Linked DNA regions of Homo sapiens. The protein of the gene in region 3 purifies or fractionates together with the protein of the main gene of each other region. This does not show direct contact. Each region holds a gene or a part of one and is shown on either strand. Other genes may lie near its edges.

Evidence for each region.
Region 1: the proteins of ACADL (region 3) and RAP1B purify together in Homo sapiens (affinity purification with mass spectrometry; one large-scale study listed by BioGRID and IntAct). This does not show direct contact.
Region 2: the proteins of ACADL (region 3) and SYT2 purify together in Homo sapiens (affinity purification with mass spectrometry; 3 studies listed by BioGRID and IntAct, with this or other methods). This does not show direct contact.

Annotation. Positions count from the first base shown.
Region 1 is NC_000012.12:68,669,754-68,672,418, forward strand, and holds the end of RAP1B (ras-related protein Rap-1b isoform 1 precursor), read left to right. Parts: 3' UTR 1-2,148; downstream 2,149-2,665. UniProt on the Homo sapiens protein: GTP-binding protein that possesses intrinsic GTPase activity. Contributes to the polarizing activity of KRIT1 and CDH5 in the establishment and maintenance of correct endothelial cell polarity and vascular lumen.
Region 2 is NC_000001.11:202,605,905-202,609,566, reverse strand, and holds part of SYT2 (synaptotagmin-2), read left to right. Parts: intron 1-626; exon of another isoform or gene 627-3,623; coding exon of another isoform or gene 3,624-3,662. UniProt on the Homo sapiens protein: Exhibits calcium-dependent phospholipid and inositol polyphosphate binding properties. May have a regulatory role in the membrane interactions during trafficking of synaptic vesicles at the active zone of the synapse.
Region 3 is NC_000002.12:210,218,930-210,222,591, reverse strand, and holds part of ACADL (long-chain specific acyl-CoA dehydrogenase, mitochondrial precursor), read left to right. Parts: intron 1-1,789; coding exon 1,790-1,945; intron 1,946-3,662. UniProt on the Homo sapiens protein: Long-chain specific acyl-CoA dehydrogenase is one of the acyl-CoA dehydrogenases that catalyze the first step of mitochondrial fatty acid beta-oxidation, an aerobic process breaking down fatty acids into acetyl-CoA and allowing the production of energy from fats.

The DNA.
Region 1 (2,665 bases), on a different chromosome or scaffold from region 3:
TGTACCACTGCACTCCAGCCTGGGTGACAGAGCAAATCTCTATCTCAAGAAAAAGAAAAAAGAAAAGAAATTAAGCAAAATGATCTTAAAGTTCAAGTGAAAGAGTAGAGTAGAACTGAGTCCAGAACTAGATTCCAGTATATGACGTTTATACGTGACAAAAATATATTTCTTTTTCTTTCTTTTTTTTTTTTTTTTTTTTGAGACAGTTTCCCTCTTGTTGCCCAGACTGGAGTATAATGGCACGATCTTGGTTCACCACAACCTCCGCCTCCCAGGTTCAAGTGATTCTCCTGCCTCAGCCTCCCGAGTAGCTGGGATTACAGGCATGTGCCACCACGCCTGGGCTAATTTTGTATTTTAGTAGAGATGGGGTTTCTCCATGTTGGTCAGGCTAGTTGCGAACTCCCAACCTCAGGTCATCTGCCCGCCTCAGCCTCCCAAAGTACTGGGATTACAGGTGTGAGCCACTGTGCCCGGCCGACAAAAATATATTTCAATAGAAAATAGTATCAGTAAAATGCTAGCACAACTAACTATCTGTCTAAAGACAATAAAAGTTCAACCCCTATATCATGCAAAAAGCACTTTCCAGATATATTAAAATGTTTTCAAGCTATAAAGTAAAACAGTAGAAGTCTTAGAAGAAAATCTAAGAGACTAGAAATCTAGAGATAGGGTAGACCTTCTTAGCTAATTTTTAAAAATGAAGCTATATTTAAGATATATATTTCAAGTAAATAATAAGTGTGTGTGTGTGTACACACAGATGCTTCTCAGCTTACAATGGGGTTATGTCCCAATAAGCCCATCAGAAGTCAAAAATGTAAGTCGAAAATGCATTTAATACCCTGATAAATCCATCACAAAGCTGAAAAATTATAAGTAAAACTGTAAGTCACAGACTGTATATATAAATTTAAAATTTGGCAAAATATATTGCAAAGTCAAATTTGGGAAAGTATAGCACAGATAAAAGATTAAACTATTCACGGCCAGGCACGGTGGATCATGCCTGTAATCCCAACACTTTGGGAGGCCGAGGCGGGTGGATCACCTGAGGTCAGGAGTTTGAGACTAGCCTGGCCAACGTGGAGAAACCCCATCTCTACTAAAAATACAAAATTAGCTGGGTGTGGTGGTGCATGCCTGTAATCCTAGCTACTCAGGAGGCTGAGGCAGGAGAATTGCTTGAACCTAGGAGGCGAAAGTTGCAGTGAGCCAAGATGGTGCCATTGCACTCCAGCCTGGGCAACAAGAGTGATACTCCGTTTAAAAAAAAAAAAAAAAAAAAAGGTAAACTATTCAAAAGATAAATGGTTGAAAGATATATAACTAGGCAGTTTAGATAAGAACAAATCCAAATGGCCCATCAACATAAAAAGATGCTCTAACTGTAGCCAGAGAAATACGAATCAAAGTACCAACGAGCCCAACACATGGACGAAAACTTCAGAGAACACTACAGTCCCAGAAGAGAGGTAAAGGGCAAGAAATGAATCATTTATTGCTGATGGAAATGTGCATTGTAGAGCTGATATCTGTTCAAATTAAATATGCATATTTGACCTCAATTCTACTACTGATATCTACACCAAGGAAATGAAAGGAAATGCACAAGATTATTTATTGCCACACTCTAGAAGGAAAAACAGAGTGCATGCCCATCAATAGAATAGTTGAATAAATTATGATTCATGCATAATATAGAACATTATGCATTCATTTAAAAATGAGTTTGATGTTTAAAGGTTGACTTAGAAGGATTCCCGTGCAAAGTGAACAAAACAGAATACCGAGAAGGATGTATGTGAGGGATGCATGTGGGCACCTGGGAAAGGAGATGAAGAAAGCAACTGAAGGATATTTACCAAGTTGTTAATATGCATTACCTGACATGGTGATATAGGAGTAGGGGTGAGGAAGTGAAGGATCTGAGTAGGTGGAAAAAGAAAAGCAAAAGTACAACAGCGGGAGAAAAAACAGGATGACTCGTCTAGAAGAGACATTGTCAGTAACAAGTAAATAACATTTTCTGGAATATAAAAAAAAAAGCTATATGAATGTCATCATTATATGTAAAATATGAATGTAAAATACATGGGAGGATAATATGCATTAATAAAAATTATGGTGCTGGCAACAGTATCATGGATGACTGTATTATTATTTCCTTTTCCTTAACATTGTTATGCTATCTTTGAGTAAAATTAATTTTAGAAATTTAAAAATAATTGTCATTATACTTAAACCTTATATTTAAACAAGAAAATAATTCAAAAAACCAAAGCAGTTTAACTTTCTTTCATTACCTGAAATTCAGCCTTTTTACACAGCTAGAGAACTTCAGTTGATCTTGTGAAGGACAAAGAAGCAGAAAGACTTCTCTAGGATGTTGGGTTTCCTAAAAGTTAAACTCAATCATTTAAAGTTGCAAATAGGTAGGCAGGATGGATTCTGAAGCACAGATTTCCCAAATGCCCTTTTTGCAGCAGATTCAGCTTCTAAACAAGTTTCAAGGGCAATGTTCATGATAGACGCAACTTTTTCTTAACATTATATTGCATTGTCAATATGTATTCCATCATTTTATGCTTTTCAATGCACTTCCATTTATAAAAGCCGCATAGTTTGCTCTTATATGCCAATATGTTTGTAGCTCAAA
Region 2 (3,662 bases), on a different chromosome or scaffold from region 3:
AAAGTCAGGAAACAACAGGTGCTGGAGAGGATGTGGAGAAATAGGAACACTTTTACACTGTTGGTGGGACTGTACTAGTTCAACCATTGTGGAAGTCAGTGTGGCGATTCCTCAGGGGTCTAGAACTAGAAATACCATTTGATCCAGCAATCCCATTACTGGGTATATACCCAAAGGATTATAAGTCATGGATTATAAGTCAAGGATTATAAAGACACATGCACACGTATGTTCATTGCGGCACTATTCACAATAGCAAAGACTTGGAACCAACCCAAATGTCCAACAATGATAAGACTGGATTAAGAAAATGTGGCACACATACACCATGGAATACTATGCAGCCATAAAAAATGATGAGTTCATGTCCTTTGTAGGGACATGGATGAAGCTGGAAACCATCATTCTCAGCAAACTATCGCAAGGACAAAAAACCAAACACCGCATGTTCTCACTCATAGGTGGGAATTGAACAATGAGAACACATGGACACAGGAAGGGGAACATCACACTCTGGGGCCTGTTGTGGGGTGGGGGGAGGGTGGAGGGTTAGCATTAGGAGATATACCTAATGTTAAATGACGAGTTAATGGGTGCAGCACACCAACATGGCACATGTATACACATGTAACTAACCTGCACATTGTGCACATGTACCCTAAAATTTAAAGTATAATAAAAAAATAAGTGTTGTCTGGGATGTGGAAAACTTGGAACCCTCATACATTGCTGGTGGGAACATAAATTGGTGCTGGCACCTTAAAATGTCAAACATAGTTATGACCCAGCAATTCCATACCTATGTATATACCCAAGAGAAATGAAAACATATGTCCACGCAAAAACTTATGCATGGATGTTCATAGCAGCATTATTCATAATATCCCACAAGTGGGATATTATTAGCTATATTTAGTTATAAAATAGCCCAAAGTGGAAATAACCCAAATATTTATAAATTGATGAATGGATAAATATAAAATATGTTCTAGGCAAGGTGCGGTGGCTCATGCCTGTAATGCCAACATTTTGGAGGCTGAAGTGGGAGGATTGCTTGAGGCCAGGAGCTCGAGACCAGCCTGGGCAATATAGGGAGACCCCATATCTACAAAAAATTAAAAAATTAGCTTGGTGTGATGGCATGCACCTGTAATCCCAGCTACTCGGGAAGCTGAGGTGGGATGATCACTTGAGCCCTGGAGGTGGAGGCTGTAGTAAGTGGTTGCACCACTGCACTCCAGCTGGGTGACAGAGTGAGACCCTGTCTCAAAAAAAAAAAAAAATGTTTTCTATCTACACAATGGAATACTATGTGGCAATAAAAAGGGAATGAAATACTGATACATGCTACAACATAGATGAACCTTGAAAACATCATACTAAATGAAAGAAGCCAGTCACAAAGACCACATATTTTATAATTCCATTGATAGGAAATGTTTAGGATAGACAAATCTATAGAGTCAGAAAGTAGATTAGTGGTTGCTGGAGCTGGGAAGAGGATGGGAATGGAGAGTGACTGCTAATGGGACTGGGTTTCTTTTTGAGGTGGCAAAAATGTTCTAACTTAGGTTATGCTAATTGTTCCACTATTCTGTGAATACAATAAAATGCACTGAACTGTGTACTTTAAAGGGTGACATATGTGAATTACATCTCAATAAAGCTGTTTTTTAAAAAAAAAAGGTCACAGAGCCCTGAACAGTGTGGTAGAAGTGAGGGGAGATGGACATGGCGGAAGGCCCTGGACACACATCTTTATCCCTTTGTGTGGCTACTTGCAGTTCCCGCCAAACCGGACCCATCTCTTTGTCCCCAGAGGCGAAGTCCAGTGGACCTTGGTTTTTCACTTCAAGACCAGTTTTGGGGTCAAGGCTATTTCAACATGGCAGACAGTAAGAGTTAAATAAATGCTTGGTGAATGAACCTACATTGCATCAATGTACAGGCCACCAGAAGTACTTAAGGCTGGAGCAGTCTCCAGGGCTGGGGAGGGGATCTCAGCAGGTTTTTAAAGGAAGGGACAGAACTTAAGAGCTCCTAAAATGTTCCTTCAGAAGAACCCTGAGTCTAGAGGAGAGTTAACTCATACCTAACGTGCAGTGAGAAAAGTCTCACATTTTTTCTTTAAATTCTTGTGCTGTATGCATCCTACTCTATTATTTCCAGCTTGTTTTAATTTAAAAATACTGTAAATTGCCATTCAGTAAAACGGATGCCTCAGGGAGTTGTGCTGTTTATTCTTGCATCCTGGAATACCTGTGGGTGTATGCTGCTATGTTCCCTCAGAGGAGCCCAGTCAACAAATACCCAGAGTGCCCGCTGTGTGCTTGGCACAAGGGGTGCTGTTGCCAACACAGGATCTGCCCTCATGGGACTTTCAGTTGAGAAATAAGTGCATAGCCCTGAGGAGCAGAAAGAGCTTGGTGGAGAGGACAGAATTATGGGGGGCAGAGTTTGGAAGCTCGTAAGAACATTGCCTTAAATGAAGACCAACATTTATGCTCAGTGTTTTACTAGGAAAAAGTTGAAAACTGCCTAAATGTCTACCAGTGGAATGGCTAAAAAAATTATGGTGTTACCATATAGTAGGATATTATGTAGCTATTTAATAATAAAAAACAATAAAGGAAAAGGCTTATGATGAAATTTTATGTAAAAAATCTTGAAAAAAAACTATACATAGTATGGTCTCAACATGTAAAACATACTCAGAAAAAATACCAGCATAGAATGCCCCAAATGCTAGTTGACTTTGGAGGGTAGAATTATGGGGGGATTTCTCTCTCTCTCCCCAAATTTTCTACAGTAAGTCTGGGTTATGTTATTAATAAACATCACATCTTTGATGCGGGAAGGCTAATCTACAGCTGCATGTGGGGGCAGGGCTAGAGATGAACCTGGAGTAGGGGCCACAGAGTAGACCGGGGAGGAAGGGCTAGAGATGGAGATGTGGGTGCCGTCTTCCTACAGGAGAGGTCAAAACAAACCCTGAGTGGGCACTGAGGGAGCCCGTGAAGAAACCGCAGAGAGCTGAGGAGTCTCGCGGGGCAGGAGGAGGAATTGGAGTCAGGGATGAGGAGAGTCAAGTGTCATGGAGCTGGGCAGAGATTCTAGGCAGAGTAGTATCTAGAAATCCTTGGAAGTCAAGGAGAGAGGTTGAAAGAGGAGCCCTCAGTGTAAAACCTTGTCTCCTTCCTAGAGTGGTGAGGTTAGATTTCAATGAGATATAGGAGAGTGATTAGCTATACAGGCTCTGGAGTTGGGCAGACCAGTTCAAACCTCAGTTTCAGAACTTACAGCTAAGTGACCTTGGAAAAACTATCTAACCTCTCTGAACCTGTTTCCCCATCTGTTAAATGGAACCAATAAAAACCATTAGGTTATTTTTTGGATTAGATGAATAATGCATGGAAAGTGTTTTGCACAGTGCTTGGCACATATATGTACTATTTTTTTTAAGAGACAGAACCTTACTTAATCACCCATAGCTCATGTAACCTCAAACTCCTGGACTCAAGTGATCCTCTATCACTTCAGCCCCCACTATGCCTAACTAAAAAAAAAAAATTTCTAAAGATAGGGTCTTGCTATGCTGCTCAGGCTGACTGTGTACTAATTGGATGATGTCTATTATTATTGGTTTACTACAGTTGTTAATA
Region 3 (3,662 bases):
AGGGTTTGCTCAAATCTCACCTTTCTGGTTTAACCTACCCTGACTGCAGCACTTTTTTTTCTTTTCCTTTTTTTTTTTTTTTTGTTTGTTTGTTTGTTTTTAGTGACAAGGCTCACTATGTTGCCCAGACTGGTTTCAAACTCCTCAGCTCAAGCAATCCTCAGGCCTCGGCCTCCCAAAGTGCTGGGATTACAGGTGTGAGCCACCAAGCCCCGCCTACTACATTATTTCATACGGCAACCTCTGTCTCTGCCTCCCCCCAGGCACATACTCCTGATCCCTTCTCTACTTTTCTTTCTCCATAATACTTACCACCTTCTAAGGTATTATACAATTTGCATATTTATAGTTTATTGTTTATTCAGTTTCCCTTTGTTAGAATGTAAGCTTAAAAGCCAAGATCTTTGTCCTCATCTTAGTCCTTTGTTCGTTATTGTATCCCAAGTTACTAGAACAGTGCCTGGCACAGAATTGGCACTCAGTAAATATTTGCTAACTAAATGAATGAATAAGCCACAAAAAAAATGATACTTAGGGAAAACTTAGAAATAGGTTGTAATAGCGACTGGGCACAATAGCTCATGCCTGTAGTCTCAGCCCTTTGGAAGCTGAGATGGGTGTATCACTTGAGGTCAGGAGTTCAAAACCAACCTGGTCAACATGGTGAAACCCCGTCTCTACTAAAAATACAAAACTTAGCTGGGTATGTGTGGCAGGCGCCTGCAATCTCAGCTACTACAGAGGCTGAGGCAGAAGAATGGCTTGAACCGGGAAGGCGAAGGTTGCAGTGAGCCAAGATTGCATCACTGCATTCCAGCCTGGGCGACAGAGCCAGACTCCATCTCAAACAAAAAAAAAAAAAAAGGAAAGAAACATGTAATAGTAAAAAGTTATTTTTTTAAAAACCCTTTAAGTCTACTTTGATTAATTACATGAAATAGATCTTTTCTGGATAAGGACTAGAAAAGAAAAGGCAGAGTCCAACTAAGGAAGAAATACACTAAATTAGAATTTAATGCAAAATAGAAAAAGCATCCTTTGGCAAGATTTGAATATATGATAAGTTTTTTAGATGTGAACTTGAAAATGTACAAAATGATGCATAGATTTTCAAAATTTCTTTCAGGGGTACTTCAAGGGTAAAAAAGGCTGAAGACCACTGAACTAAAGGAGCTACAAAACTGTCTCATTTGAAGCTTGGTGTGGGAGGGATGGGAGTAGGTCTTAAATAATTCCATTTTACAGAATCTTTATCAGAGATTGATGGGTATTTTTATCTCCACCCAGATTGGCTTTGTAATGTGGCGATTACATCAACATGGTTTGCATCTTATACACCTGCAATTTGAAATTGTGTGATTCTGGTTAAAATACTAATTTTGGAGGCTTTGCATTATTTTAAACATTGTATATGATATGAAAATTTATCAGTATTACTCTACCGTACTATTTGAATTTTACATAATGTGATCCATATGTCACCTGACAATACTACATTTCACCTCAAGTCAGACCTGTGGTTAGTTCTAGGCATCATCTTCTTTAAGGATTTGGAGATGGAGACCGAGTTGAATAATGATAAGGTACTTCTTAATTCCAGCTACATGAGGTAGATCCCATCAAAAGTGGTGGCGCCCAAATTTGAACCCAGCTTTGTCATAATTCAAACTCTTTCTACTTGCCTCTCAAGTTTCTCTGTGAAAGAAATCCATGTTGTTCAGTGGCACTAATTTGGATATGAAGAGTAACAATTCACTTACTTTTCCTATTGCATATATATATTTTTAAGATGTTCTCATTCCGGAGGGGAAGAACGTCTAGAAACTCCTTCTGCTAAAAAATTAACAGATATAGGAATTCGAAGAATCTTTTCTCCAGAGCATGACATTTTCCGGAAAAGTGTAAGGAAGTTTTTCCAAGAAGAAGTGATTCCTCATCACTCAGAGTAAGTGGCACATTTTCCTCTAATGTAATGTATACTAGGGGTATTATAGGACCATTTCCTAGAATGCCATATATTGCTATACAGAAAACATAGTATGTTCAGGGCTTTATTAACATTTTTACTGCTCTTCACTGTAGTACTATAAGATCCCAGGATTCTTAGAGCTTTTTAAATGAATTTTAAAATGTACTATACACAAATAAGAAAATTTGAAAATTTACAACTTAGTCTAAGAGTAGTGTTTTTGAAAACCATGGGTAAGTGGTAACAAAATACTAGTCAATTTCATAGTCTTTCTTTTTCTGCTTCATGAATTAATTAAACTGTAAAAACCCAAAAAGTCAGCACAATGCAAACCTTGGTAAGCAATTGGTTACCTCTGGATAGTTCTTGATTAACTAATTATTATTATTTTATTGACCAGAAACTTATCTATTTCTATTACAATAAGATTTTGCTTCATTTCCAAAATTCACTCAATGCTAGTACAGATGCTCCTCAATTTAGTATGGGGTTACAAGTTGAAAATATCATAAGTCAAAAATGCATTGTTATTATGTTAACACTGTTACTATGTTATTATAAAAACAAAAAAATTCTCGGCACCGTTATTATGTTAGAAGCAGAAATTAGAAGATTAGTAAAATGAAGAGAGAAATGGTTCAGGAACATCATAGGTTTGTGAGGTTTTACACACCTAGCCTACTAAACCCCATAGTTTAGGCCAGCCTACATTAAACATGCTCAAAACAATTACATAAGCCTACAGTTAGGCAAAATCATCTAACACAATGTCTACTTTGTAGTAAAGTATTAAATAACTCATGTAATATATTAAATATATTTAATATATGTTAAAGTGAAAAACAAAATGGTTATATGGATACTTGAAGTAAGCATGTTTTCGACTGAATGTGTATTGCTTTTGCACCATCATAAGTAAAAAAATTGTAAGTTGAACTGTCATAAAGTACAGAGACATCCGTACTTTAAAACATTTAGAATGGTTTTTAAATAGCATTAAAAGTAACTTCCATTAGGTTTTTACTAATACCTTCTTGGTAAGAATGACCAAAATAAGCTAAACTCAGAAGCCAGAAGCCATGACTAGTCTTCGGTGAAAAGCAACTAGCTTCTGTTTTTTGAGGACTTGTTTGTTTGTTTGTGTGTTTGTGTGTTTTTTAAGACATGGTCTCACTCTGTTGCCAAGGCTGGAGTGCAGGGGCATGATCATAGCTCACTGCAGCCTTGAACTTCTGGGCTCAAGCGATCCTCCTGCCTTAGCCTCCCAAAGTGCTGGGATTACAGGTGTGAACCACCACATCGGGCTTCAACTAGCTTCTTAAAGACAAAAGAGACATTGTACACTTTGCTCTGGTAGGATCTCTTGTTTATTTCTCACTGCTTTTAAATTTTATTCCAGAAAAAATGTTAAGAAGGCTTTGAAATAAAATAATAGGAGCTGACAAATTTTAAGTCAATAATAAAAATATTTCCAAAGCTACTTTAAGCAAGAACTGTATTCAAAACACACATGATAATCCAAGTCTTAAAAATTTTTGTAGTGTCAGTATCTTCAAATACCCCATATCTCACTATAATCCACTTAAAAATACAAAAATTCTCAGATATTTTTTCACTATCTCCAACTAGCCATCTGTTTCCTCATTCTGCCATTCTCATTTTTAAAGAAGAAAAGCTGAGGTTGCCTACCTTA